Homo sapiens: one gene and its partners. The protein of the gene in region 4 interacts with the protein of the main gene of each other region in a pairwise test. Each region holds a gene or a part of one and is shown on either strand. Other genes may lie near its edges.

The links.
Region 1: the proteins of COQ8A (region 4) and MAL2 interact in binary tests that used the Homo sapiens proteins (3 or more experiments, as listed by UniProt).
Region 2: the proteins of COQ8A (region 4) and LITAF interact in binary tests that used the Homo sapiens proteins (3 or more experiments, as listed by UniProt).
Region 3: the proteins of COQ8A (region 4) and STX10 interact in binary tests that used the Homo sapiens proteins (3 or more experiments, as listed by UniProt).

The regions. Positions count from the first base shown.
Region 1 is NC_000008.11:119,203,506-119,211,460, reverse strand, and holds the start of MAL2 (protein MAL2), read right to left. Parts: upstream 3,099-7,955; 5' UTR 2,989-3,098; coding exon 2,857-2,988; intron 1-2,856. UniProt on the Homo sapiens protein: Member of the machinery of polarized transport. Required for the indirect transcytotic route at the step of the egress of the transcytosing cargo from perinuclear endosomes in order for it to travel to the apical surface via a raft-dependent pathway.
Region 2 is NC_000016.10:11,576,587-11,584,682, forward strand, and holds part of LITAF (lipopolysaccharide-induced tumor necrosis factor-alpha factor), read right to left. Parts: intron 407-8,096; exon of another isoform or gene 1-406.
Region 3 is NC_000019.10:13,143,411-13,148,324, reverse strand, and holds the end of STX10 (syntaxin-10), read left to right. Parts: intron 1-2,737; coding exon of another isoform or gene 2,738-2,770; exon of another isoform or gene 2,771-2,785; intron 2,786-2,929; coding exon 2,930-3,037; intron 3,038-3,454; coding exon 3,455-3,561; intron 3,562-3,653; coding exon 3,654-3,748; coding exon of another isoform or gene 3,749-3,816; exon of another isoform or gene 3,817-3,838; coding exon 3,839-3,915; 3' UTR 3,916-4,267; downstream 4,268-4,914. UniProt on the Homo sapiens protein: SNARE involved in vesicular transport from the late endosomes to the trans-Golgi network.
Region 4 is NC_000001.11:226,963,848-226,971,943, reverse strand, and holds part of COQ8A (atypical kinase COQ8A, mitochondrial), read right to left. Parts: intron 6,945-8,096; coding exon 6,534-6,944; intron 6,274-6,533; coding exon 6,207-6,273; intron 1-6,206. UniProt on the Homo sapiens protein: Atypical kinase involved in the biosynthesis of coenzyme Q, also named ubiquinone, an essential lipid-soluble electron transporter for aerobic cellular respiration.

The DNA of each region.
Region 1 (7,955 bases), on a different chromosome or scaffold from region 4:
TCAACTGTTGATAGCCCAGTCCTCCTTTGTCAGGTACAATTTTCACATGTTAAGTTTCAGAAGGCAATGGGACAGAAATGAAGAACTCTTAAAGACAAACGAATTTGAACAGAAGGTCAAAATTAAAATGGAGTTTGAGGATATCCAGAAACACCGGCAGAGGTTAAAATAATGGGTCCCCAGAATGGAGATCACTTAGCATTTAGGACAGTGCCTGGGAAATTCTCACATTTACTTTACAGGTTGAGGAATTTCTGAGGAGGAGCCATGGGAGATGGCCAATTTTAAAAGAATCAGAAAATTAGATGGAAATTGAGACATCTAGGAGCTAAGTTGCTTCAAAAGTGTTCACTTAGCTTCTATCTGTACATCCACTCAAGATGAGTATTCTAAATGGAGGGGTAACAAGCCAGCTTTGATCTCTGCTCTCTTAAAGCATGTAAACCAATATCTCTAAACAGTCCTAAAGGATGAGAGCCGAGGAGCTATAGTTTGACTCTAGTGTGGTCTCTTGTTTTGTTTCTCTAACGTCACCAGTTTCATTGGAACATTTTGGTCATTTTTCAATGGGGTGGGGGAGATTGATATTCAAGTAAAGGAGATAAAGGGGGCCTAAAATGTAAACTTATTGAGTTGGCCATAAAAAGAGAGAAGCAAACTAATAAGCTTTTGGAAGTGATGCTGTTCTACGTAGCCAAGAGTGTGAGACATGTTTCAGGATGTAAGAAGCCAGAGGAAATGAGATAAGAGGATTAGATTGGACACTTCTGTGAGTCTGGAATCCCTCCTAGGTTGGGGAGTGGTGGCAGTTTTAGCGGATAGAGAGAATTCACATCTCTGAAAGCAGAGCTGTCTTCTCTAGGCTCTGAATATTAGAATCACCAGGGAAGCTTTAAAAAATAACTAGTGAACTCTGGCACTCCCCCAGAGATTCTGATTTAATTAGTCTGGGCTGGTAACAGTTATTTTAAAAAGCTGTTCAAGTTATTAAGTACAGCAAGAATTGAGAACTAACCTCTGGGCTAGATTTAAAAAAGATATAATGGGGAGGGGGAGGGGGAAATTGACTAAGTCACTTTCTATTCTTTTCCCCCAGAATTAGGCCTTGTTTCCTAAAAGTCTGACATGACTACAGGTTCTTGAGATGGTATTTGATTAGAGGGCATATGGATAAGCCTTCTTTGCATATACACATGTATATATATTTACATATACACATACATGTATCTTTACATACATACATACATATATTTGAATAAACATTAGAAAAATATAACCAGAATATCAAATTTGAAATTTCATGTATATTATTGCTTAAGAAAAGACAAAAGTACTGAAGTTTAGAAAGTATTTCAATGAACTGTCTGTAAATTCTAGTACAGGTGGAATGCGGATATGGCAAAAACTTCTCAAAGAGGTAGGCAAAAAACTGGAGCTTGCAGAACATGGAATAAAGTAGCCGAGAACCTAAGAAATCGTTCTTTGCAGATCTTCCAGTTCTAAACGTGTCTCCCTCCCACAGCAAGGCAGCCAGCCCAATGCCATCGTCTCTCCGCTCTTCCCACATGGATGCCTGCACCTCATCCCAAGCACTCAGATGCTTCTGAACCAGGCTCAAACTCAAACCAGCCTCGCAGTCAGGATCCCATTACTGATGTCATAGCCTGCAACTCACTCACGTCTCCTCTTTCAGATTCAAATCCGGGCTAAACTTAACTTAGGGTGGTGTGGCTACCTGAGCATAATAGAACAGTGCTCACAAGGTGATCCAGCTCCACAAGCACAAAAGTGAAACCAAAGCGACCCAAATAAAGGTTATGCAAGCTCAAAGGCCAGGGTGAGGGGAGAGATGAAAATCCTAAACCGAGCAAACAATACCAGCCTGCCGGAAAGGCACTAACTCGCTAACATTTCACTTTTTATTTGCCATTCTCAGGCATGATGCAACCTCAGGTTGCCCAATTTATATTTGCACATTATCTACTTGTCCACAAGGAGCTTCGAAAGTTTCCAACTCCATAAAATTCCATTTAAAAAGTTCAAGTGCTACCTAAAAAGGCTGCACGACAGGCAGGTAACCCCACCTTTACTTGGGCCCAACAAAGTGTGCTAAAAAGGTTTGGAGTTGCGTAAGGAGGCCAGGAAGTGAGAAGGTGCAAAGGCAGGCAGAGAAGAACTCGAGAGCCACGTTTCCATCTTTCCCCCACCATTGTCACACCCACTGGATTAGAAACTGCCCAGGGCATGGCACATAACTCACCTTTCTCCTTGCCCTGCCTCCTGCCCAGCTCCTCTTTCCAATCCAAAGGCCACTAATGATGGCAAGGGTGAGTGGGGAAAAAGCATGTTCAAGTCCTCAGCCCTCTTCCTCTTCCTGTTGCCTCCCGCCCCCACTTTCCACAGCGTGGCAGCCACCAGGTCACCCAGTCATCGGCTACACCTTTGCACCACCCAACAAAATGGCAGGTTAGCAACAGGCGAGGCCGAGAGCCAGGAGCTCGCTCCGGCCAAGCGCGGCCCCTGGCCATGCCCTGGGTTTCTAAAGGCGCCTCTGAGCCCCAACACCTTTCTTTCCTCCACGTCCCCAATGTTCGGCCCTGCCGGGCCGCCTACTCGCCCTCCCCAGGCAATTTCCGTCGCCCGCGGGGGAGCAGGTGCCCGCGTAACAGGTGCTAGGAGGGAGGGCCCGGGCGGCGGCGCGGGGCACCGAGAGGACCCCGGGAGGGAGCGCAGGACAAAGCCACGTCGAAGGGAAGGAGGCCGGGGGCGGACGCAGAGGAAGACAGCCCGGGGGACAAGGATGCCGCCGCCTGTCCTCGCTCCCCGCGCGACCCTCGCTCCGGCGGCCCCACTTACAATCTCCAGGCAGACGAAGGCGCCCGAGTAGGTCCGCAGGATGTCGGGGCCGGCGGGCAGGGTGACCCGGGGCGGCGGGAAGGACACGGCGGGGTTCGGGGGCGGCGGGACTGACGCTCCGCCGGCCGACATGCTGCCGCTGCCGCTGCTGCGTCTCCGCGCGCCGCCGCCGCCTCCCGCCTCCGCCTCCCGGGCTCCTGCCGCCGCCGCCGCCGCCGCTCAGCTCCGCGGGCTCCGGGCGCGCCGCGCGGGAGGAGGCGTGGCCGTGGGGCTCCTCGAGCCCCGCCCCGTCACGTGGGCCCAGGTGAGCGCCGCTCCGCCCTGGCGCCCGAGCCGCTCGCGATCACGTGCACAGGTGCGGCTATTGCAGCCGCCAGGCGCGGTCCTCCCAGCTCCGCCGACCTCACCTCCTGCTCCGCTGGCCAGCGCCAGCGCTCCGCGGGCGTCTCCATGCGCACCCCCATACCCCTGATCGCTATTTTTACCTTCTAGCCCTCCCCTTAGTTTGCACCTGTGCTCTCCACCTGTCTTCTCCCCAGCTCTCACAGCGCGCCCTCGCCCACTGTGCTCAGTTTGACAGATACACAGGTCTTGGTGCTGTGACTCAGAAGGTAAAATCGAGGTCACCAGTCACACTTAAAAAGTGGGGTGCTTATGTTTTAAATGGGACTCGAGTGGGATTTTTTTAAACGCCACTAGGGCAGCGTCGCGCGTGGGAGTCGGATGAGTCAGCTGCAGCAGCCACTGGCGCGGGGTCCCTGCAGGTCACCGGAGGTGTCCTCGTCCGTGAAACGGGGATGTGAAATCCACCGGCATAGATGCTCACATTAGATCATATAACATGAAAAGAGTTGAGCGCACAGTAAGCTCCTTAAATGCTAGCTGATATGATGAGAGCTCTTTTCCTTACACAGGCGCCTATCACTGCTCAGTGGACACACGATGTTGCATGGGTTATATTTTTTTAAGTAGAACTTTTAATTATTGATTTCACTGGTATAAAACTAATTGCTTATTGCCTTTTAATGGCTTAAGGGGATTTTTTTTTTAAGTCTATGTATGGTTCGAATTTCCTGCTCTAGTTTATCCCCATTTATCTCCATTTTATCGTTGGTTTTAACGTCAACATTTTGTAAGTTCAACAGAGGAGATGAGCTTAATTTTCTCGTCTACTAAAGATGAGCAAATCTACCAAATCTACATGCATCAGCACACACAGGTAGACCACGTTGGAAAAAAACATTGGCTAATCTCATCAGACATTCTCCAAGTTGAATCCTGACCTTGCCTGTCAGGTTCAGTCTCTGAGGAACTGTATTTAGCACTATGCTCTGCTCAGCAGATTCTAGTTACTCTACTTCTCTATTATTTTAATAAGTGAAACTCATAGGTGTGGTTGTGGCATCCGGGTAAAAACCACAAAACAGGGTGTGGGTGAAACCTTCTGTATATCCCTCCTCTCCCCACCTCTTAGTCACCACTTTCTGATATTTAATGTGTGGTGTTTATTTAATAGGAAATTTTAAGTTTTCTGCATGGATTTGTTTGATCGATGAGCCCTGTCTGTATTCAGACTCTGGCACGGGATGATCTTTCTGTTTTATTTTCTGCCTAAGAATTCTCAGTAAGCACTTAAAAAATGTTCAAAGGAAAGACTTCAAAGAAGTAATCATGGAGATGATCAGCAACTACGCTATGCCCAAAATATTTTAGTGAGTGAATTTAATACGTCCTTGGAGTTTCTAGAAGGGCTAATGATTCAGAAGAGCCTCAAGTGAGCTTATTTTAGCATTGCCACCTAGGAGAACACTTTCAACTGGGTCTCTTACTGCACCCTCCTTGCTGTACTGCATATCCTCAGCCATCTTTGCTTTGCCTCTCCTTCCTGCTTCCACAGTGACCAGTGGCATGAAAAAGGTTGTCAATGAGCGCTCTGTTATTGTAACATATTATCTGCTTGAAAAAGAACACTTTTTTTTTTTTTCGAGACAGAGTCTTACTCTGTCTCCTAGGCTGAAGTGCAATAGTGTGGTCTTGGCTCACTGCAATCTCTGCCTCCTGGGATCAAGCAATTCTCCTGCCTCAGCCTCCTGAGTAGCTGGGAATACAGGCACCTGCCACCACACCGGGCTAATTTTAGTATTTTTAGTAGAGACAGGGTTTCACTATGTTGGCCAGGCTGGTCTCGAACTCCTGACCTGGTGATCCACCCACCTCAGCCTCCCAAAGTGCTGGGATTACAGGTGTGAGCCACTGTGCCTGGCTGAAAGAGAACTCTTTTCTAGAACACTTTTTTCTCTTATGATCGCTACCAACACCTGTTTGTTCTTGATAATACCAGTTTCCTTCTAGTGAAGGCAACACCTCTAAAATCAAAGGAAGAAAACGCACTTAGCTCCACTCCACCCCACTCCTCTGCCTCTTCCTCCAGGACACTAACCATGAGCTCTTAACAGTTTCAACTTTCTGCTCTTTTCCCAACCTGTTCCGGTGGTTCCTGACTTCCAGCATAACTTTAACCCTGCTCATAGACTTCCTTTGGACTCCATTTTTATGGAATGTCAACATTCATGTTGTTATATTTTTAATGATCTTGACTCAAAACGACTTGCTACAGTCAATAAATTCTCACCTTATTATTGGGAATTTTTATGCTTCCATTCTCTTGGACACTGACATTCTGATGACTGTCTCCTATTGGTTTCTCTCTTTCATCCCCAATTCTTTGGCCTCCAGCCTTACCATCCCTTGCATTCTCTCATTGGCCCCATTCTAGCTTTTCTAGCTTCCCCTTCCAGCCTGTGCTTATGGGAAGGCATTTTCGTGATGCTCGTATTGATCCCACATTTCTTCCCATCTTGTACTTGACTCTAAACTTACTCTCACCGTTCCTTATTCTTCAGCTAGAGTTCAACCCACAATCTACATCTGCCCTCTCTGAATCATTCATCACACTGCCCAGGGTTGCTGAAAGAAGGTCATAATGAAGACTCTTGGTTCCACTACTAATTCATGTGATCTAATCCCCTAAAAGGTCATTTTCCTTTTACCTCCCCCCGCCTCCCCCACTGCCACCCCCATGCCTGGCAATATTTCTCTCAGTTCTTATCCCATAGCTTCTTTTGTTTTACCTGTCCTTGTGCCTGTCACAAGTAGGCTTATGTTCAGCGAATGAAAACAAATCTAGACTGTTCCACCCTTCCATAGTTTCTTTTAGCTTACAAGAAGTTTTAGGACATCTAGCCAGTAATACTTGTTTCACACTGCCATCAATCCAGTTATCCAAGACAAACACCTGGGTGTTTCCCTTGGTACCTCCTTCTCATGACACATATTTAATCAGTCACCAGGTTCTGGCAGTTCTACCATTTTATTTTCTAGAATATATGCACTTTCCATTCCACTGTTCTGACTCACTATCCCTCTCACAGTGAATGCTCTTCTCAGAAGGAATATGCTTCTGACAGTGAATTTCCCTCTCTTATATTCTCTGCACTGCTATCTGAATGATCTCTCAACAGAAAATTTATCAGTCACCCCTCTACTTAAAACGCCTCCAATTCCTTACTTTTCTCAGGATCAATTACAGATGCCCTGGAGTGCATTCAAGGTATTTCTGGCAAGTGGCTTCTGATGAGCCCTCCCACCTCACCAGCCTTGTTGATCCACCTACATCTTCAATACCTCCTGCCTCCAACCTTTACACATTCTCCTCTCTTTTGCAGGATATCCTTTCTTCTTACCACTCCCATATCCTCAACCTATTTTCTGTATATTTTGGGTCACAGGGACAGATATTTCTGGCAGCCTTTCTCTGCCCATTCAAGATTATGTAGGGCCCCCTGTCACCCAGTGTGTTTCTATAACCTGCTGTGCATAATCCACACAGAGAACGTATATCATTGAATTGAAATTGTGTTTTTACTTGTCTCCTATTGCTTGCTAGTGTTGTGTAACAGGGTATTAAATCAAAAAGTTCAGTGGAGGCACCAGGAGATGGTAGATATCAGATACCAACATGAGCTGTGAATCAGACCACCAGAAGTTTTAAAGTGGCCCGACTGTGATCTCCTTAGACAATCTATAAACCCACAATTCTATCAAGAATATGAAAAGCTCAGGAGTTACAGGATTTGGAAAGATTTCTTTTTTGGCAGTGGAGTGGGGAGGCACCGTGCTGGGAATCACACTTCACTCTTCCCCTCCTCCATCCCCTTCTTCCCCACTGGAGGAAACAGCTGAGTTTTATTCACATTATATAATAGAAACTCAAGTAAAATCAGCTGACGAAGTGAACACTGCATCTAAATTTCTATGCTTCATCGTTGTTCCTATGCTACTTCATGTTTCATAAGAAGTGTTTCTTTTCCTAGGCAAAGTTGAGCCCCATCTCAGCTTTTTATCATTTCCCCTTTGTATTTTTCTTAGGAAATTCATTCTTAATTTTCTTTTCTGTCTCCTCAATGTTCAATTTTTGCTTTATACACAGCCTTTCTCTTTGAATATGCATGCTTCCCTTATCATCAAAAACAGCAACAAGTAATTCCAGTCCAAAATACAATAACCAGGACTAGATTAACCTTCCTTGCACAAAACAGCTGAAATCCCAGAGGAAATATATGAAACAATAGTTTCAGACATTGTACTTCAGGTAACACAGAACAGTGATCCACTGGAGATGGGAAAAAATGAGGTGAGCCCTGCGATTTCCCCAGCTTGGGGAGAGTTTTCAGAGCACAGGGAGGGGAGACACTGGTGGAAGCTAGCAGTCTCCATGAGATGAGGTGGTGAAGCTGGGAATTTGAGGAGGCCAACCAAGCTAGAGTTCACAGAGTACTGGGGAGAAAAGAGCTGCATACAGATAAACACTGGGAGGCCAGCAAAGGTCCCCTTTATTAAATCTTCAATTGAGTGCTGATTAGCACATGAAGGTGACTAACTTACCCAAGGCCAGGGCAGAAACATTCCAAAGGAGCAGTGGAATAATCCCAGGAATTCATGCAGGACCAGGAATAGTTCACATTTCCACCATTCAGAGTGGAAAATCTCCTAATTAATGGAGCACTGGATAGAATATTCTGAAGAGTATTGCCTCAGTA
Region 2 (8,096 bases), on a different chromosome or scaffold from region 4:
GGAAAAATGCTTGTGTCCACATCTGTGGTTCTACACGGTCCCAGGCTGCCAACAGTCCAACATGGGGCTGATGGCGGCTCCATCCCACCAACACAATTTGCTACTTCAAAGCCTCTGAGGACTTGGACACCAGCAGAACCCAGCGTGCAAGGACTCTGTGTAAAGTAAGAGTTCATAGTTGCCGTGGGCGCCTCCTCTGAGTGAGGTAAACAGGCTTGGGCATCTGCTTTGATGATAAATATATACCTTATTTGGGAGTCTTCTATTTGCTTACTTCCTTTGTTCTGGCCAAATTCCAGATGACTGCAGGTAGTCCAACTGTCTGTCTTTGAAAATTCCAGAAAACAGCAATCTTGCCTTTAGCAAGACTTACGGATAATGTGGGAACAGGGTGGTGGTGGACATTGCCTGTCAAGCGCTTTTCATGCCTGTTTCACATCCCCTGGCTGACACCACATGATCTAGCCCTTGATGACATATGTCTTCCTCCTGCATCCTAATTGCTTCCTGTCTGCAAGTTAGCTTCTATTAATATTTCCCTAACTGGACCATATTACGTTACTCTCTGCCCACCCCAGGGGAAGGGATGTGATCTATATTTCCCCACGAGGGCTTGAGAAAGCCAAGTGCATCTGACATCCTTGCACAGCTGAGGTCTCCTGTGCCCATATGGCACATCTATCCCATCTATGACAGGGTATCTATGGCATCAGCTCATTAGAAGTGTCTATTTTTTTTTTTTTTTTTTTGAGACGGAGTCTCCCTCTGTTGCCCAGGCTGGAGTGCAGTGGCACAATCTCGGCTCACTGCAAGCTCCACCTTCCAGGTTCAAGCAATTGTCCTGCCTCAGCCTCCCGAGTAGCCGAGATTACAGGCACCCACCACCACGCCCGGCTAGTTTTTGTACTTTTAGTAGAGATGAGGTTTCACCATGCTGGCCAGGTTGGTCTCGAACTCATGACCTCAAGTGATCTACCCACCTCAGCCTCCCGAAGTGCTGGGATTACAGGTGTAAGCCACCACACCTGGCCAGAAGTGTCTATTTTTTAAACAAGAAAAGACAAATCTTCCTCACTGACAAATTCCAAATAGTATGAGTAGATACTCCCTCTCCAGGGGATGCACTTTTATTTTATTTTCTTTTTTTGAGACAGGGTCTCACTCTGTCACCCAGGCTGGAGTGCAGTGGCACCATTGGCACCATCATAGCTTACTATGGCCTCAGCCTCCTGGGCTCAAGCGATCCTCCTCCCTCAGCCTCTCGAGTAGTTGTGACTGCAGGTGTGCATCAACAAGCCCAGCTAATTTTCTATTTTTTGTAGAGATGGGGTCTTGCTCATTCCACTATTTCCAGGCTGGCATGCAATGGCTTGATCGTAACTCACTGCAGCCTTCAACTCCTGGGCTCAAATGATCCTCCCACCTCAGCCTCCTGAGTAGCTGGGGCTACAGGTGTGCACCACCACACTCAGCGATTTTTTTTTAACTTTCCATAGAGATGGGGGTCTCAATATGTTGCTCAGGCCGGTCTTAAACTCGTGGGTTCAAGTAATCCACCCGCCTCAGCCTCCAAAACTGCTGGGATTATAGGCATGAGCCATGGCACCTCGTAGGAGGTGGAATTTAATCTCTCCCTTTCCTCTCCTGTGTGTGGGCTGGACTCCTTGACTCTCTTTCAAAGAACAGAGTCGCCAGGCGTGGTGGCTCATGCCTGTAATCCCGGCACTTTGGGAGGCCAAGGCGGGTGGATCACCTGAGGTCGGGAGTTCGAGACCAGCCTGGCCAACATGGGGAAACATGTCTATATACAGGCACATGCCTGTAATCCCAGCTACTCAGGAGGCTGAGGCAGGAGAATTGCTTGAACCCAGGAGGCAGAGGTTGCAGCGAGCCAAGATCGCACCATTGCACTGTAGCCTGGGCAACAAGAGCAAAACTCCATCTATGAAAAGGGAAAGACAGTAAACTACAAGCGAGAAAATCTGGCAAATACCTCCTTTTCACTCTCTCTCTTGATATTAATTAACATCAGGAATACTTTACTCTCTCCCTTGATATTAACATCTGCAATGTCATGTGCATGTCATGTGCCCTCTGATGTGACAGGATGAGAAGGACACTTCACCTCCGTGGTCTTCTCCTCCCAGAACCCACAACCCCACTGTAATCATGAGAAAAATATCAGACAACCCTGATTTGAGGGAAATTCTACAGAATCCCTCATCTTCAAAAAGTATCTAGGTTATGAAAAACAAAGCAAGACTGAGAAACTAACATAGCCAGGGTGGCTGAGGAGACAAGATGACTAAATGCAATGTGGGGCCGGGCACAGTGGCTCATGCCTATAATCCCAGCACTCTGGGAGGCCGAGGCGGGTGGGTCACCTGAGGTCGGGAGTTCGAGACCAGCCTGGCCAACATGGGGAAACCCCATCTCTACTAAAAATACAAAAATTAGCTGGGTGTGGTGGTGCGTGCCTGTAATCCCAGCTACTCGGGAGGCTGAGGCAGGAGAGTTGCTTGAACCCGGGAGGCCAAGGTTGTAGTTAGCTGAGATTGTGCCATTGCACTGCAGCCTGGGCAACAAGAACAAAACTCTGTCTCAAAAAAATAAAACACAGTTTGGGAGGCCGAGGCAGGTGGATCATGAGGTCAGGAGATCGAGACCATCCTGGCTAACACGGTGAAACCCCGTCTCTACTAAAAATACAAAAAATTAGCCGGGCGCGGTGGCGGGCGCCTGTAGTCCCAGCTACTCGGGAGGCTGAGGCAGGAGAATGGCGTGAACCCGGGAGGCGGAGCTTGCAGTGAGCCGAGATTGCGCCACTGCAGTCCGCAGTCCGGCCTGGGCGACAGAGCGAGACTCCGTCTCAAAAAATAAAATAAAATAAAATAAAATAAAATAAAATAAAATAAAATAAAATAAAATAAAATAAAATAAAATATATCAATGCAATGTAGTACCCTAGGTTAGGACCCTGGCCCAGAAAAAAAGGACATCAGTGGGAGAACTGGGAACTCCAGATAAAGTCTGGAGTTTGGTGAACAATAACATACCCTCATCAGTTTCTTGGTTTGACAAACATACTGTGTGATGTAAGATGTGAATAATGGAGAGAACCAGGAACTGGGTGAGGAACTCCCTGTACTAACTTCACAACTTTCTTGCAAATCAAAAATTATGCCAAAATTAAAAGTTTATTTAAATACTTTCAGGGATCCCACTTATAAATGAGTCAGATAGGTGATGGGGCTCAGGACACACTACCCCAAAATATGACTGCAGGAGACTAGAACATGTCACCTCAGGATCTATTTCTTTGGCATATATTGAGCTGATTATTCTGAGAAACTGCAGACACAGGAGCAGCTCTGAAAAGCTGCCCTTTGATACAATAAATTGAAATCTACAGGTTGATTATCCCAAATGTGAAAATCCAAAATCTGAAACTTTTTGAACACAGACATGATGCTCAAAGGAAATGCTCATTGGAGCATTCTGGATTTTGGATTTTTGGATTAGAGATGCTGAACCAGTAAGTAGAATGCAGTATTTCAAAATCTGAAAAAAAGATCCAAAATCTGAAACACTTCCGGTCCCAAGCATTTCAGAGAAGAGATACTTGATCTGTGTAAAGGAAAGTGACTATCATAGGACCCTCATCAACCAGTGAAGTTTTTTTTTTTTTTGAGACGGAGTCTCATTCTGTGGCCCAGGCTGGCGTACAGTGGTGTGATCTCAGCTCACTGTAACCTCTGCCTCCCAGGTTCAAGTGATTCTCCTGCCTCAGCCTCCTGAGTAGCTGGGATTACAGATGCCCACCACCACACCCGGCTAATTTTTGTATTTTTAGTAGAGACGGGGTTTCACCATGTTGGCCAGGCTGTTCTTGAACTCCTGACCTCATGATCCACCCACCTTGGCCTCCCAAAGTGCTGGTATTACAGGCGTGAGCCACCGTGCCTGGCTGGAAGATCTTAACTTAGGAGAGGAGACTGAAGGTCGACACCTGGTCACAAGCCATCACCTGCTCTTCTGAGGCTACTCTGAGACAACTTTCATCATTCAAGAGGCTTTTTATCTGCATTAACAAGGCAACCTTTGTTCACCATACATTTCCTCCCCTTACCCTTCTATAACCTATCACCACCTGCCTCCAGGAGCCCCAGGCCCCTATTCCTTTTTCTTTTTTATTTTGAGACAGGGTCTTGTCTGTCACTCAGGCGGGAGTGCGGTGGCACTATCTCGGCTCACTGCAGCCTCGACCTCCCAGGCTCAAGCGATCCTCTTGCCTCAGCCTCCAGAGTGGCTGGGATCACAGGCATGAGCCACCATGCCAGACTAATTTTTGTATTTTCTGTAGAGACAGGGCTTTGCCATGTTGCCCAGGCTGGTCTTGATCTCCTGGGCTCAAGCGATCCTCCTGCCTTGTCCTCCCAGAGTGCTGGGATTACAGGCATGAGCCACCACGCCCAGCCGCTTATTCCTTTTTCGTAGCTCAGGCACACTACATAAACTTCAATTATCTGACCTTGCTTTGAGTTTCACTTTCTGTGGGACTCCCACATTTATGCATGGAATAAATTTGTATGTATTTTCATCCGTTAATCTATCATCAGTTTATTTCATAGGCTCAATTATGGTACCTTCAGAAGGCAGAAAGAAAGTCTTCTCTCTCCCCTACATAGGCCAAGAGTAAGAAAAACTATAAGGTGAAATGGAATAGGCAGGTCTTACCCCAAAGCACTCAAGTTCAATTTAAAAAAACAAAATTTGAGTGCTTTGGGGTGAGGCTCATGCCTGTAATGGCAATACTTTGAGAGGCCAAGATGGATGGATCACTTCACTCCAAGAGTTTGAGACCAGCCTGGGTAACATGGCGAAACCCTGTCTCTACAACAAAAAACCACTAAAATTAGTGTGGTGGCTGAGGTGGAAGGATGGCTTGAGCTCGAGAGGGAGGTTGAGGCTGCATGGAGCTGTGATCACGCCACTGTACTCCAGCCTGGCCAACAGAACAAGGCCCTATCTCAAAAAATATATAAGTAAATAAAGTATATTTTGGTTAAATGCCAAAGACTAAGTGGGGGGTAAAGGAGAGTTTCTGACACTTCTAACTGATGAGGTGAAAAATAAAAAATAAAATAAAATAAAAAGATACCTAGAATTTCAGCAAAAGAACAGGTTTTAAAGGAATCTCCCAAACTCTGCCCAGCTGAATGCATATTTACACCTGACCACAAGTCCGCACTCCCCTCGAAAGGTATTTCACAGCTTCCACAAAGGAAGGACGACAAAATTGAGCTCACAGAAGTAGAGAAAAGAACTGTGGTTACTGGAGGTTACAAAGGGGAGGGGAAGAGAGGCTAGAGAGAGGTTGGTTGATAGGTACAAAGTTACAGTTCAATGGGAGGAATAAGTTCTACTGTTCTGTAGAACTGTAGGGTGAATATGGTTAACAATTATTCAGTGTATATTTTCAAATAGCTAGAAGAGAGAATTCTGAATGCTCACAACACAAAGAAATGATAAGTGTTTGAGGTGATGAACATGCCAATTACTCTTTGATCAATTACACACTGGAGACATATAAGAAAATATCACTCTTTATCCCATAAATGTGTATGATTATTATGTGTCAACTAAAAATAAAAGAGAAAATGGTCAATGGCTTTTTAAAGGGTTTGAAAACAAGAGCAAGATATAGTGAAATATCTATTTCACTCACAACGGAAAAAAAAAAAAAAAAAAAGAACTCCCCACAAAGCTTTAGCCACATGTGGGTGGTAAACTCTTCTAAAAATATATCCTCAAGCTGTGTATAGAACTGTTTTCTACATTTGGGTATCAGATCAACACATAAAAGGGCAAGGCCTTCAGAAAGATAAAGCGGCTTTTTAACTACCAACTTAATCCTCGAAGATCGATTCTTCCAGGAAGAAAAAGGAGAAATATTCAATTCTACTCTGGTCTCCATCTCCCAGCCCCCAGAAAAGAAACACTAAGCTAGGCCCATGAATATGTATATCGCAGAAATGACCCCAGAATAAAAAAAGGGATTCCTTAGGCAAAAGAAGGGCACTCACATGCAAATTGTCAGGTCCCCTAAGAAAATAGCCTAGTTTGTAAACAAGAAAGAGAACCAGCTGCGAGGGTCAAAAAGGTCTGGTCTTTTAGGGTCTCTGGAGAAAAACGTTATTTCCAATAATGGGAGCACAGTGGATCCTGACTATAATCAACTTTCAGGAACTATCCAAATTGTACACTTATTAAATTGAATATTGCTTAAAATTCTTAAACTAAGGAGGGTCACCTGGCAGGTTTTAAGCTACAATAATTCTGCAATACGGTTTTTGTTGTCATGGAATTTAACCTGTCTATCATTCCTGAAAATGTTCAAGGTGAATGGTGCGTCTTAAGCCATAAATGGTTAAGCAGGAAGGTAGACAAAAGGGGAAACCCGGACCTCCAGCTCTTTGGGAAAGGAAGCGAGAAATTGGCCTTTGGTTATTTGATCCCAAACAAATTCCAGTTTCAGTAGACCTCAGTAAAAGTACAGAAGCTCAGAGTGAAATATTTCAGAGAAATGTGTGCCAATTCCATCTTCTGAGTTCAGGCTGTTTCTGCAGGGCGGTATGTCCCACAAGTCAAAGATAAAGTTACCACAATCTTAAAGCCAGGTTCAAGCATGGCGTAATGACAAATCACAGTGATTTGTGGAATGGAAAATGCTTCCATCGGGGAGTTGGGCTGCTCCCCCACAATCAGAGTGGGCAGTTTTCCTCTGGACTCCTGGTGAAACCACATCCCTAGTTTCCACGTGAATCACAGTTTTTCATCAAACAGTGCAAGGAGATCATTAATAAGACTGAGACTGCATTAGGATACAAAATTGTATGAACGCTGATGACAATTTCATAGAAAACAGGCACAAAGACAAAAGACAGAAGCCGCCCGATAAGGACAGCCAGTGGTAGTTGTTTCGTTCTATAAGATTATGCCTTTCTTCTTTATCTTCCACACTTTAATATTTTTTAATAAAAAATTTCAAACTATCAGTGCATCATCTAGGAATAACCTCATGGATTCAAGTTTAAGGCAAGACATCATTAAGCTCTTAAACTTACCTGAGGCACACTGTCAATTAAATCTAAGGCTCCATGAGCTAAATAGCTTAAATTCTCCAACATTATTTTCTCTGAAGCCTCCAGCTTTGGATCCTGGTATATAAACTCCTACCTACTGCGAGGTGAGCAGAGAATTACCATCACATAGACACCCTCCAGAATGGTTCCTTTCTTGTGTCCATGCCTTAAGCTCTATGAAATTACACAATTCTTCTACTGAAATAACCTGCAGCCAAGGGACAACTTCATTAGCTACAAAGCTGTTGTCACCTGTGTCCAGAGTGTCAATCAATACAGGCTCAAACAACAAGATGAAATTATGAGGACCCTGGAAAATGCCACTTGACCTCAAATAACAATTCTTAGGCAAGTAAACATCAATCAAATTCAGAACAGACCATGGGTGGCCAAACAGACCCGGGAGACGTCAAAAATATGTGTGCTAAAGAAACACAGAACTAAGGAAGTCTATTTACCTGATAGACCGCCTCACCCACGGGGCTATTTTCACTGCTGTAAAAGCGAAAACAAATAGAGGACAAGTCACAGTGCCAAGAATACAGGACTTCCTCTTGCAGATCCTCTTTTTTCCACCCTCACTGTAGCTCTGGGGAAATTCCTATTCAGTGGGAGAAGTTTAAGTCACAAAACGGCACCAGCCCATTCTCAAAGTGCTATTATACACCTCTGAGCAGTGAGGATGGGTAATGTCAGCAAAATATGCACTGTTTATTTTCTTGAAAATTAACTTGGGCTGGAAACGCCTTCCAGCTCCTTCCTCTCAGTGGATTTTCCATTTACTGTCTTCAACCACCTGGGCTTGTCTGTACCTCTTCCACAGCTCTACTGAGACCCTCCTGTTTGTCTGAACTATGTCCTCATGTTCCTTCTGCCACATGTGCTCAGGCCTCAGTTTTTCCATGAAACTTTCTCTAACTTAGCTGCCTCCTTTCCACTGTTCTCAAGCCC
Region 3 (4,914 bases), on a different chromosome or scaffold from region 4:
TCCATGTTGGTCAGGCTGATCTTGAACTCCCAACCTCAGGTGATCCACCTGCCTCAGCCTCCCAAAGTGCTGGAATTACAGGCATGAGCCACTGCGCCTGGCCTAATTTTTGTATTTTTAATAGGGTTTTGTCATGTTGGTCAGTCTGGTCTCAAACCCCTCACATCAACTGATCTGCCTGCCTCAGCCTTCCAAAGTGCTGGGATTACAGGCGTGAGCCATCGCACATAACTTCCTTTTTTTTTTTTTTTTTTTTTTTTTTGAGATGCAGTCTCACTCTGTTGCCAGGCTGGAGTGCAGTGGCGCAGTCTCGGCTCACTGCAACCTCCGCCTCCTGGGCTCAACGATTCTCCAGCCTCAGCCTCCTGAGTAGCTGTAATACAGGCACATGCCACCACACCCGGCTAATTTTTTTTTTTTTTTTTTTTTTTGAGACGGAGTGTTGCTCTGTCGCCCAGGCTGGAGTGCAGTGACGTGATCTCGGCTCACTGCAGCCTCCGCCTCCCGGGTTCAAGCAATTCTGTCTCAGCCTCCCGAGTAGCTGGGATTACAGGCACCCACCACCATGCGTGGCTAAATTTTGTATTTCTAGTAGAGACGGGGCTTCAACATCTTGGCCAGGCTGGTCTTGAACTCTTGACCTCGTGATCCACCTGCCTCGGCCTCCCAAAGTGCTGGGATTACAGGTGTGAGCCACCACGCCCGGCCAATTTTTGTATTTTTAGTAGAGACGGAGTTTCATCATGTTGGCCAGGATGGTCTTGATCTCCTGACCTTGTGATCCACTAGCTTCAGCCTCCCAAAATGCTGAGATTACAGGCGTGAGCCACCGCGCCCGGCCAGCTTCCTTTTTTTTTTTTGAGATGGAGTCTTGGCATGTTGCCCAGGCTGGGGTGCAGTGGTGCAATCTTGACTCACTGAAACCTCCACCTTCCGGGTTCAAGCAATTCTCCTGCCTCAGCCTCCTGGGTAGCTGGGACAACAGGAGTGTGCCACCATGCCCAGCTAATTTTTGTGTTTTTAGTAGAGACAGGGTTTCCCCATGTTGGCCAGGCTGGTCTCAAACTCCCTACCTCAGGTGATCCGCCCCCGCCTTTTCATCTGTGCATGCACCTAACCTATTTGGGTGCGTGCACTTGGCCTCTGAGTGTATCTGCATTTTCCCCCCTCATATCCTAATATCTGCTAGTTTCCTCTGTAATGTGCCTGCCGTGTGTGTGTGTGTGTGTGTGTGTGTGTGTGTGTTTCTGTGTTTCTCCCAACCACCTCTGTCAGTCCACTTTTTCTCTTGGTGTTCTCTGTTGATATTTTTCATATGTTGAGAACCACCAGCCTTTCTCTCTCCCTCATAAGCGTACGTGGGGTCGGGGAGGGTGGGGGACTGAGGCTCCTCCCAGTTTGTCATCCCATAGCAGTGCCCACGTGCCTTCCAGATGTGCTGCCTTGGGGGAATTCAAGTCCAAACTCTAAAATACATCTGTTGGAGCCGGGCACGGTGGCTCACACCTAAAATCTCAGCACTTTGGGAGGCCCAGGCAAGTGGATCACCTGAGGTCAGGCGTTCGAGACCAGCCTGGCCAACATGATGAAACCCTGTCTCTACAAAAAATACAAAAATTAGCCAGGCGTGGTGGTGATCACCTGTAATCTCAGATACTTGGGAAGCTGAGGCAGGAGAATTGCTTGAACCCGGGAGGTGGAGGTTGCAGTGAGGCGAGATCACACCACTGCACTCCAGCCTAGGTGACAGAGCAAGACTCTGTCTCAGACAAACAAACAAACATCTGTTGGGCCAGGCATGGTAGCTCACGCCTGTAATCCCAGCACTTTGGGAGGCTGAGGCAGGTGGATCACTTGAGGTCAGGAGTTCGAGACCAGCCTGGCCAACATGGGGAAACCCTATCACTAGTAAAAATACAAAAATTAGCTGGATGTGGTGGCAGGTGCCTGTAATCCCAGCTAAAATCCCCCCAAAAATAAACAAATAGTAAAATGTGACATTTACTAGCATTACTATGTGTTGGGCACTGCTGTAAGTGTCCCCCATCAATTAATTCTTTAAATCCTCATTTCAACCCAGGAAACACGGATTCTAGCTCTTCCCATTTTATTTTATTTTTTTTTTTTTTGAGGCAAGGTCACTCTGACACCCAGGCTGGAAATGCAGTGGTGCGATCTCAGCTCACTGCAACCACCGCCCCCCAGGTTCAAGCGATTCTGCTGCCTTAGCCTCACAAGTAGCTGGGATTACAGGCATGCACTGCCACACCCGGTAATTTTTTTTTTTTTTTTTTTTTTTGAGAGAAGGTCTTAACCTGTCACCCAGGCTGGAGTGCAGTGGTGTGATCTCGGCTCACTGCAACCTCAGCCTCCCAGGTTCAAGTGATTCTGACCTGCCTCAGCCTCCCTAGTAGCTGGGATTACAGGCACCCGCCACCAAGCCTGGCTAATTTTTGTATTTTTAGTAGAGACGGGATTTCACCATGTTGGCCAGGCTGCTCTCAAACTCTTGACCTCGTGATCCATCTACCTCGGCCTCCCAAAGTGCTGGGATTACAGGTGTGAGCCACTGTGCCCGGCCCAATTTTTGTATTTTTAGTAGAGATGGGGTTTCACCATGTTGGCCAGGCTGGTCTCGAGCTCCTGACCTCAAGTTATCTGCCCACCTCCACCTCCCAGAGTGCTGGGATTACAAGCATGAGCTACCATGCCCCATCCTGCTCTCTGCATTTTACAGATGAGGAAACTGAGGCACAAGGAAGCCAAATGATGGGGTCTCTGGGTCACCTTGCTAGTAAGTGGTGAGTGGGGAATGCAGGCTGTCCTGCCCCAGAGTCTGCCCCCCTGACTTACCACCGTGGGGATTTGCCCCACAGGCCCCGCTGTGAGTTGGGGTCTCTCCCTGAGCCTATGTTGTGTGCCCCTGCAGATACTCGCAGGCAAGCCAGCTGCCCAGAAGTCACCCAGCGACCTGCTGGATGCCAGCGCAGTCTCGGCCACATCTCGCTACATCGAGGAGCAGCAGGCCACACAGCAGGTTTTGGGGCCAGCGGGGTGGATCTTGGGAGGGGAGAGCCTTGCAGACTGATCTGAGGTCTGGGGTCCCTTTTTGTTGTTGTTGTTGTTGATATGGAGTTTCGCTTTGTCGCCCAGGCTGGAGTGCAGTGGCGCGATCTCAGCTCACTGCAACCTCCGCCTCCCAGGTTCCAGTGATTCTCCTGCCTCAGCCTCCCTAGTAGCTGGGATTACAGGCGCCCACCACAATGCCTGGCCAATTTTTATATTTTTAGTAGAGATGGGGTTTCACCATGTTGGCCAGGCTGGTCTCGAACTCCTGGCCTCAAGTGATCCGCCTGTCTCGGCCTCCCAGAGTGCTGGGATTACAGTCATAAGCCATAGCGCCTGGCCTTCTGGGGTCGTTTTCAACAGCATCTCCCACCCCTTCGCTCTGCAGCTGATCATGGATGAACAGGATCAACAGCTGGAGATGGTGTCTGGGAGCATCCAGGTTCTGAAGCACATGTCCGGCCGCGTTGGAGAAGAGCTGGACGAGCAGGGCATGTGAGGCCAGGACCCTGGGGGTGGGCCAGGGGCTCTCGGCCACCCTGGTGTGTCTGGGCCATCTGGGGCTGATGCCATCCTGTTCTTGGCAGCATGCTGGATGCCTTCGCCCAAGAGATGGACCACACCCAGTCCCGCATGGACGGGGTCCTCAGGAAGTTGGCCAAAGTATCCCACATGACGAGTGGTGAGTCCCCTCAGGGGAGGGGTCAGTCCTGGTGGGGGCAGGTTGTAGGTGGTACCCTCTCCCCGTGACCCCTGACCTTCTCGTTCCCAGACCGCCGACAGTGGTGTGCCATCGCCGTGCTAGTGGGGGTGCTTCTCCTCGTTCTCATCTTACTATTCTCTCTCTGACCCCAGCCCTCCCTGGCAGGCTGGTCCCTTAAGCCTGGGGAGCCACCAAGCACTTTGGAGCTGGCCTCGCCCCCTAGGAGGAGAGGGTCCCTCCTGGGTAGCTGGAGAGTAGAGGGTCCCGCCTGGGGAGCTGTCCCCATGGCTCTCCCCTAGAGCCAGTGGGACCCTTCAGGACCCTGGGCTGGAACCACCACCACTGGTCCTGTCTCAAGTGCACTTAGGGGGTGGTGGAGGCAGGGACACCTGAGACACACCTGTCTCCATTTCCAGTTCCAGGACCCCAAAGCCATTTGCCCCTGTGCCTTATACACGTGCCAACCTGGAAATAAAATGTCAGCCTTTTTTATACGTATTTGTGTCGTGTGGTGTGTGTTGACTGCAAATGCGTGACCGAGCCCTGATTGGGACTCCCATTCTAAGCCACTGCTTGCACAAGTGCTCCAGTGTGTGTGTGCACATGTGCGTGTTCCGGATTTCTTTTTTTTTTTTTGAGACAGAGTTTCACTCTTGTCACCCAGGCTGGAGTACAGTGGTGCAATCTCTGCTCACTGCAACCTCCACCTCCTGGTTTCCAGCAATTCTGCCTCAGCCTCCCAAGTAGCTTGGATTACAGGTGTGTGTCACCACACCCAGCTAATTTTTGTATTTTTAGTACAGATGGGATTCCTCATGTTGGCCAGGTTGGTCTCAAACTCCTGACCTCAAGTGATTTGCCTGCCTCAGCCTCCCAAAGTGCTGGGATTACAGGCAGGAGCCACCGCACCCATGCGAGTCTTTTTTTTAATGGTTTAGGTTCTCTTGATCTTTTTATTTTTATTTATATTTTTTTGAGACAGAGTCTCGCTCTGTCGCCCAGGCTGGAGTGCAATGGCGTGATCTCGGCTCACTGCAACCTCTGCTTCCTGGGTTGAAGCGGTTCTCATGCCTCAGCCTCCTGAATAGCTGTGATTACAGGAATGCTCCACCACACCCAACTAATTTTTTATTTGTAGTAGAGAT
Region 4 (8,096 bases):
AGAGAATAGTACAGATACAGTATTTGAAGAAATGATCAAAATTTTCCAAAACTGATGGAAGCCACAGTTCAAGATGCTCTGTAAACCCCAAGCAGAATAAATACAAAGCAAACCACACTCAAGCATGTCACAGTCAAACTGCTAGAGAACAAAAACAAAAAGGAAATCGTAAAAGCAGCCAGAGAAAAGAAATAAGACATAACTTTCAAAGAAGCAGCAATATAACTGATAGCCACATTTTCAAAAAAACAATCAAAGTAAGAAAACAATAGAGGAATATTATTAAAGTGATCAAAGGAAACACATTTTCAACATCGAATATTCTACCCAGCAAAAATACCTTAAAAAAATAAAGTATGATGATATATTCTCTTTTTTCTTTTTTTTCTTTTTCTTTTTGAGATGGAGCTGTCATCCAGGCTGGAGTGCAACGCCGCCATCTTGGCTCACTGCAACCTCCACCTCCCCAGTTCAAGTGATTCTCCTGCCTCAGCCTCCCAAGTAGCTGGGATTACAGGTACCCACCACCACGCCCAGCTAACTTTTTGTACTTTTAGTAGAGATGGGGTTTCACCGTGTTAGCCAGGATCGTCTCGATCTCTTGACCTCATGATCCACCCACCCTGACCTCCCAAAGTGCTGGGATTACAGGCATGAGCCACCGTGCCCAGCTATAATGACATTTTCAAAAAAATAAAAACTAGGTCGGGTGTGGTGGCTCATGCCTGTAATCCCAGCACTTTGGGAGGCAGAGGTGGGTGGATCACCTGAGGTCAGGAGTTCGAGATCAGCCTGGCCAACATGGCAAAACCCCATCTCTGCTAAAAATACAAAAATTAGCTGGGTGTGGTGGCATGCACCTGTAATCCCAGCTACTCAGGAGGCTGAGGCAGGAGAATCACCTGAACCCGGGAGGCAGAGGTTGCAGTGAGTCGAGATCACGCCATTGCACTCCAGCCTGGGTGACAAGAGCAAAACTTCATCTCAAAAAATAAATCAATAAAAAATAAATAAAAACTAAAAGAATTCATGATTAACAGACTACACTGTAAGAGAGAGGAGAGTTCCTCAGAGAAAAAGAAAATTATACCAAATAAAATTATAGAAATGCAGGAAGAAAGAAACACAAAAAAGGGCAAATATGTGGGTAAATCTAAATTCATATGGGCTGTACAAAGAAATAATTCTTGTGGTGTTTAATATATCTTAATATCTAAAAAGTGTTCTAAGGTATTAGCATCATTGGAGAAGTAGTAAAAATAATCACTTATTTTTATATTGTAATAAGTCAAGATGCGTGCTGTAATCTCAAGAGTGATCACCAAAAGAACCGTAAAGGAATGTAAAACATAAGAGCTAACAAAGAGAGAACATGCACGGTCACGCATCATGTAACATTTCAGTCAACGGACTGCATATACGACAGTGATAGATTGTATCATATTTTTACTATACCTTTTCTATGTTTAGGTACACAAATACCGTTGTATTACAGTTATCTACTGTATTCAGTACAGTAACATGTTGTAAAGGTTTGTAGCCTAGGAGCAACAGGCTATGCCATACAGCCTAGGCATGTAGCAGGCTATACCATCTAGGTTTGTGTAAGTACACTCTATGATGTTCACACAATGATGAAACTGCCTAACGACACATTTCTCGGACTGAATCCTTGTTAAGACACACATGAGGGCCAGGTGCGGTGGCTCATGCCTTTAATCCCAGCACTTTGGAAGGTTGAGGCAGGTGGATCACTTGAGGCCAGGAGTTCAAGAACAGCCTGGCCAACATGGCAAAACCCTGTCTCCGCTAAAACTACAAAAATTAGCCGGGCATGGCAGCACACACCTGTAATTCCAGCTATTCGAGTGGCTGAGGCATGGGAATTGCCTGAGGTTGCTGTGAGCCGAGATCACGCCGCTGCACTCCAGCCTGGGTGACCGAGCGAGACTGTCTCCAAAAAAAAAGAGAGACGCATGACTATAATTTTAAGTCCTTGATTAATTTAAAAGAAGGCAAAACAGGTGAGAAAAAGGGGGACATAACAGACAGGTCAAATAGTAAACAAACAAAAACTAAGGTAGTAGATATAAACTCCAATACATCCACAATTGCATTTAAATGTAAATGGACTAAATATTCTCATTGTAAGATTATCAGTCTACACTTAAAACACACAAAAAACCAACTATATATGCTGCTCATAGATATGCATTAAACATAAGGACATTTTAAAAGTTGAAAGTACAGGGGAAAAAAAAAAGGTAACATGCAAACATTACCCAAAACAAAGCTGGAATGTAGCTATAGTAATATCAGACAATGAGGACTTTCACAGAGATGAAAAGAGGCATAACATAAGAATGAAGGGTCAATCCCTAGGAGGATATAAGAAGAATTCTAAATCTGGCCGGGCGCGGTGGCTCACGCCTGTAATCCTAGCACTTTAGGAGGCCGAGGCGGGCGGATCATGAGGTCAGGAGATCGAGACTTATCACGCACGTGTAGTCTCAGCTACTCGGGAGGCTGAGGCAGGAGAATCACTTGAACCCAGGAGGCAGAAGTTGCAGTGAGCCAAGATTGTGCCACTGCACTCCAGCCTGGGCGACAGAGCAAGACTCTGTCTCAAACAAAAAAAAAGAATTCTGAATCTGTAGGCAACAAATAACATAGCTTCAAACCATATAAAGCACAAGTCAATAGACTAAAAGTAGGTAAATCCACAATCATAGCAGACTTTTTAATGCCTCTCTCGATAGCTTATTGAATAAGCAAACCAAAATCACTTAAAAATCTGATCAATATGAATAATAAACCAGACTAGATAGACGGATCACTGCACTCAACATGAATTATTTTCAGGTAAACATGGAACATTTACCAAAATATTCCCATTTGGAATCAACGGCAAGACCCTTATTTTACAAAAGAGAAAACCACGGTAGAGCCCAAGGTCACACTGGAAGCACAGTTGTAATCAAAGGACAGCTATTATGATGAACTAAAGTTCAGTTCTGACCCCATATCCAATATATGACCCTTTCTTTCACACCACTCTTTAAGAAAATCTAATATCCACAGATCATCCTGCCCATAGCATCACAGTCATAATGTCCCATAGCCAAATTGGACTTAGGACTCATGCCCCGCCCCCATTTCAGCATCAAAATGAGCCCCTGGAATTGGAAAGTCCTTGACTTCCACTTCTATATAGCTGAATACCTACTGCCAACCTCGCTGAAAACCCGTCTGGGTCCCTGCAGCAGCCCTACCTCCCTGAGACCTAGAGCAATCCCTTTCCTTCATAACCCCGTGTAAAAACTTCCTAAAGTCTGTCAGTCTGCACCTGAAAAACACCTTTCCTCCATGAAGGGAAGAAAGGCTAGAGGTATTTTCTAGGAGAACAAAGCGCAACAGTGCAACTACAAACTGTTTGGATGATGACCCACCAGTAAGCTATATATTTCACATTGTAGTGAAGAACATACTTAAATAGTATGTATGTCTCTGAAACTAAAATATCTTGCCATGTGTATAGTTCATTGTAAGGATGTACGATATTAATTCTAATCTTTTCTATTGAATTCCATTCTGTTTAACTTGTTTTTTGAGACAGAGTCTCACTCTGTCGCCCCCACTGGAGTGCAGTGGCGCAATCTCAGCTCACTGCAACCTCTCCCTCCTGGGCTCAAGCAATTCTTGTGCCTCAGCCTCCCGAGTAGCTGGGATTACAGTCACATGCCACCACACCTAGCTAATTTTTGTATTTTTTTAGTAGGAATTGGGGTTTCACCATGTTGGCCAGGCTGGTCTCAAACTCCTGACCTCAGGTGATTCTCCCACCTCGGCCTCCCAAAGTGCTGAGATTACAGTTAACTTGTTTTTTATATGCTGATCCTGATGCATTAAATTAATTTCACAGTTACTAAAGGGTCATAACCTACAGTTTGAAAGGTTCAACTGGGTGAGCCAGAAGGCCCAGAATTCCCCACTAGGGCCAGAACGGCACGTTCTTTCCTGACCTGGCTTCTCTTTGCTCCCATCCTGCCATCTCCAAGCCTGAAACATCATCTGTCAATTGCTTGGGCAACAACATGAGCATCTCTGAATCATAGCTGTGGGCAATCCTCCAGCACACAGACACCCACAGATGGCTCCGTACATCAGGCAGGTGTCAGCAAAGGCTCCAGAGGCTTCTGATGCTACAAAGCACCCAAGACTAGGGCTTCAACTCCACTAACCCAGGCTCCCTCTGGCTACCCATAATCCCCCACCCTCTGAGGAGAGCTCTCTACCTTTTTCTTCCTACACATCTTCCTATATATAACCCCTTCCACATCAGTCTCTGTCTTCCTTAACCCGTCACCCAAAAGGGTCTGACTACTGCCTCCTTCGCCAGGACTTCGTGGTGCTCCACCAGATTCTAATTCACCATCAAGACTTTCATTCTGACCACTTTTCCCTAACAGCCTGCATTAGCTCTACCGCTTCTCCCCACCCCACAAAGACTCCGAAGTGAGGACTGCACCAGTCCTGAAACACGTCAAACTCAGCCTTCCAGGGACAGGCTCACCAAGAGTCTAGAGTGAAAGGAAGAGGGAGGGGACAGAGAAAAGGTACCGATGTGAAAACAGGGTAGCTCCTGCCCTCAATATCATGGGGAAAGAAGACAGCCTCCATTCAATATTTTAATAAGAAATAATACATGTTACCCAATGACAAGCCAATGTGCAAAGCAAGTAACATGCCAAGTCTTCCAGGGGATAAGGACCACTAGAGGCCACCAAGGCAGTGATTCTCAAACTCATTCTGACAGCAGAACTCAGGGAGGTGTGATATTCTATGAGGGACTGCTTGAAATGTTACCCCAGGAAAAGGAAATAAGCAAATACTCTTGGCTGTCACATAGATGACACTTCATACTAAATTCCTGAATGGCTAAGTACAGTGGATGCCAAATATTAAGGTAAAAATTATGAAAGAAAACCTTACTGCTGAGAAAATTCTATCCAGTTAACCAAGTCTGCTCAGCACCTTGGAGAGGGGGGCCAGCCATCATTCAATGTCAGAACCCACACACATTACGCAGCTCCCAGAATACCAGGCTCTCGGGGAGCACAGTACGTGAGCCTCTGCCCAGAACCAGTCTTGAACAAGTAGGATGGGGTTTCCAAAAGAGAATAGGCAGGAGCGGAGGAACAGCATGTATGATGGATGGTGTATGGGAGGAAAAACATAAACCAGCAAAGAGACAGGCAGACCCATGAGAGTGCATCTCCATGCCCCACCCAGCACCAGCACCATCATGGACCACTCAGACCTCTGCTGCCTACAGCCCTGGAACTAACCACTCACCCAAGGTCAGGGTCCAAATCAAGCCACCAAAACTGTGGCTTCCATTAATTATATCACCTGGAGAACCTACTGAGGACAGCTGAGTGTTAAAGAAATGCAATCCCAGTAACTAACTTAGAGTGTACCACAGCAAAGGAGATGGCACTTTAACAGGAACATCTGGGCCAGCGCATTAGCAGCAGCATGACAAACATGATGCCATCAAAGCAGACACAACTGCTATAAACCTTCACTATAAAATCACCCTTCAACTTCTATAAAAAGAGCGCATGTGTACTGGGCACAATGACAACTCAACCCCCCAAAGTACAGACAAACGGCTTTAAACAGCAGCAGCTGGAGGCCATGGCATCTTGTCACTCCACTCATGAGCCGCAGGCCTGTGGGGACCCAGCAAATGGGCTCCCTAAATGTCTGGTCCCAGGGGGAAAGAAAGCCCTGCTGAGTTGCTGAACAGCCCCAGGGAAGAGCTTTTCCTCACTGCCCAGCCTCCTTCCTGAGAGGCCTCCAAAGCAGCCGACTGGTAGTGAACCTGAGGCAGGGGTGAAACAGAGATGCTGCAGACACCGCCTCCAGGCGAGGCCTGCCGGGCAATCCAAACTCAGCTCCTGGCACAGCATCGGCCCTGTACCAACCCGCAGGGGAGAGCCAGGCAGAGCTGGAATCCAGTAACTGAATCATCCTCCCATGAAAAACTCCAGCTCCCCAAAAGCTCATGCAGGGGCGGCCACCGCCACCTGCTCCCCCAACGCCCTCCCCGGGATATTGCTGGGTCCCCACCTCCATGCAGGCCGCAGCGTGGTGCCCAGGCAGGGCAGGTGAGGCAGTCCAGGGGCACACAGCCACCTTACCTCCGAAGTTGGCCAGCCGGCCAATCCTCGTCACAGGCACCTTCCGCTCCCGGGCATGCTCGCTGAGCTGGAGGGAGACGAGAAAGAGACCTGTGGAATCAGCCAAGGGGACAGGACCAACCTTCAGAGGCTCCTGTTGCCCCCACATCTCCTCTCCACCCCACAGTCAGCAGCTCCGCCTGACAGCACACTCCACCAAGAGAAGGCCACCACGCTCCTAAAAACCCCAGACCACAGCACCCAGGAAAAGTCCCTAGAGCAGAGCCCAAGGCCATCACTGCTGTGGGTGGCAGCTACCTCGGCCCTCCAGGGGCCTCCCATACGCACCGTCTGTTTGTGCTGCTTGTTCTCGGGGCGAGCCTTAGCCTGCCGGGCCTTCTCAATGTCCTCGGCTGTGAGGCCCCCAACAGGGGATTGGTCCTGGTGGAAGAACCTTCGCTGAAAGCCCATGGCAGAGAATGAGTCTCTGGGGTTTGCAAAGAGCCTCCCGTTGGCCCTGCCCAGAGGGGAGGAGGCCTGGCCGGGGAACCCGGCTTCTCTAAAGGGTCCACTGGCCACGTAGGCAGGAGCTGGGCCCTCGCTGTGGGCATGACCCAGGGATGGGGGCGCTGACTGGTCGGGAGCGGAGGCTGAAGAGAAGTCTGTGGAGGCTCCGGCTGCATGCGGGACTGAGAAGTGGAACTCCCCTTCTGGGCCGCCGAAGTTCTCAGCAAAATATTCTTCATGTTTATCCTGACCCTGCAGGGAGCAAAGGCCAGCATTAGGAGAGCAAGAGCGAGCCAGGAGCTCCTCCCTGCCTGTCCCCTGCTGCCCAGGACAGCACACCACCAGCATCCCGCCCCCTCCCACCTCCAGAGGTGGCACAGTGCTGCACCTGAGGCCCGGCACCCTTCCCAGCCTGGGAGCCGGGACCTGGGCTCCAGCCCTGCTTCTGTTGGGGCTCTGCTGTGTGGTCCTAGGTGGGACACTGAGCACCTACTGTGTGCCCAGCCGGGGCCAGGCCAAGTGCACACTACGCCCGCAGCGGGTTCCTCACCTATAAAACAGGGCCAAGAAGGCCTCCAGGGCTTTGGAGATGGTAAACCAGGGCGCAAAAGACAGGGAAAGCTCTGAGAGGTGAACACACAGCCTAAGGCCAGCAAGGGGTGAGGGAAGCACACCGACGGGCCCACCTAAGCCCACAGCTTACTGCAGACATGGATGCCACCCACCAGCCGGGGTATGCATGTAAGAGATCCTCACTGGAGAGGTGGTTACAACCAGGACCAGGCCTGGCCGTCCCTAAGAGCTCAGGGTACAGGGAAATGGAGGGGCAGGGGAGAGGATACGCCATGTTTTCTTTGTGATGGTCACCAAGGCCTGAGCTTCGGGCCCAGGTCCTTTCTGCTTCTGAACCAGGAGTGACCTTGAGTGAGCTCCTGACCCTTCTCTGCTACTTCCTCATCTGAAAATAGGGCTCCTCACAGTCACAGTTACTGGAGGCCACAGACAGGGCCAGGAAACAGCACCCAGGAGCCTATAATTAGAACAGCACCGGCTTCTAGAGGGAGACCAGTGGCCTGGATTCTCGGCTTCAACTGAAACAAATGAAATGCGCAGGGTATGCAGACAGCAGGATACCCAAGCCTCACGTTCTGCTGTCTAAGATGTCACAGGATGGGAGGGAGGAGAGAGACAGGCTGTTACACTCATTTCAAAAACAGGAAACTGAGGCAAAGACGGCTGATGTGCTGGTGAAGGTCACCAGGCAGCAAATGACAGAGCCGGGATCCAACACCCAGGCTGGCCCTGCTGGCTGTGGCACTACTCTCAGAGTAGAAACAAGTTGTATTTATGCCAGTGCGATGGCTCACACCTGTAATCCCAGCACTTTGGGAGGATGAAGCAGGC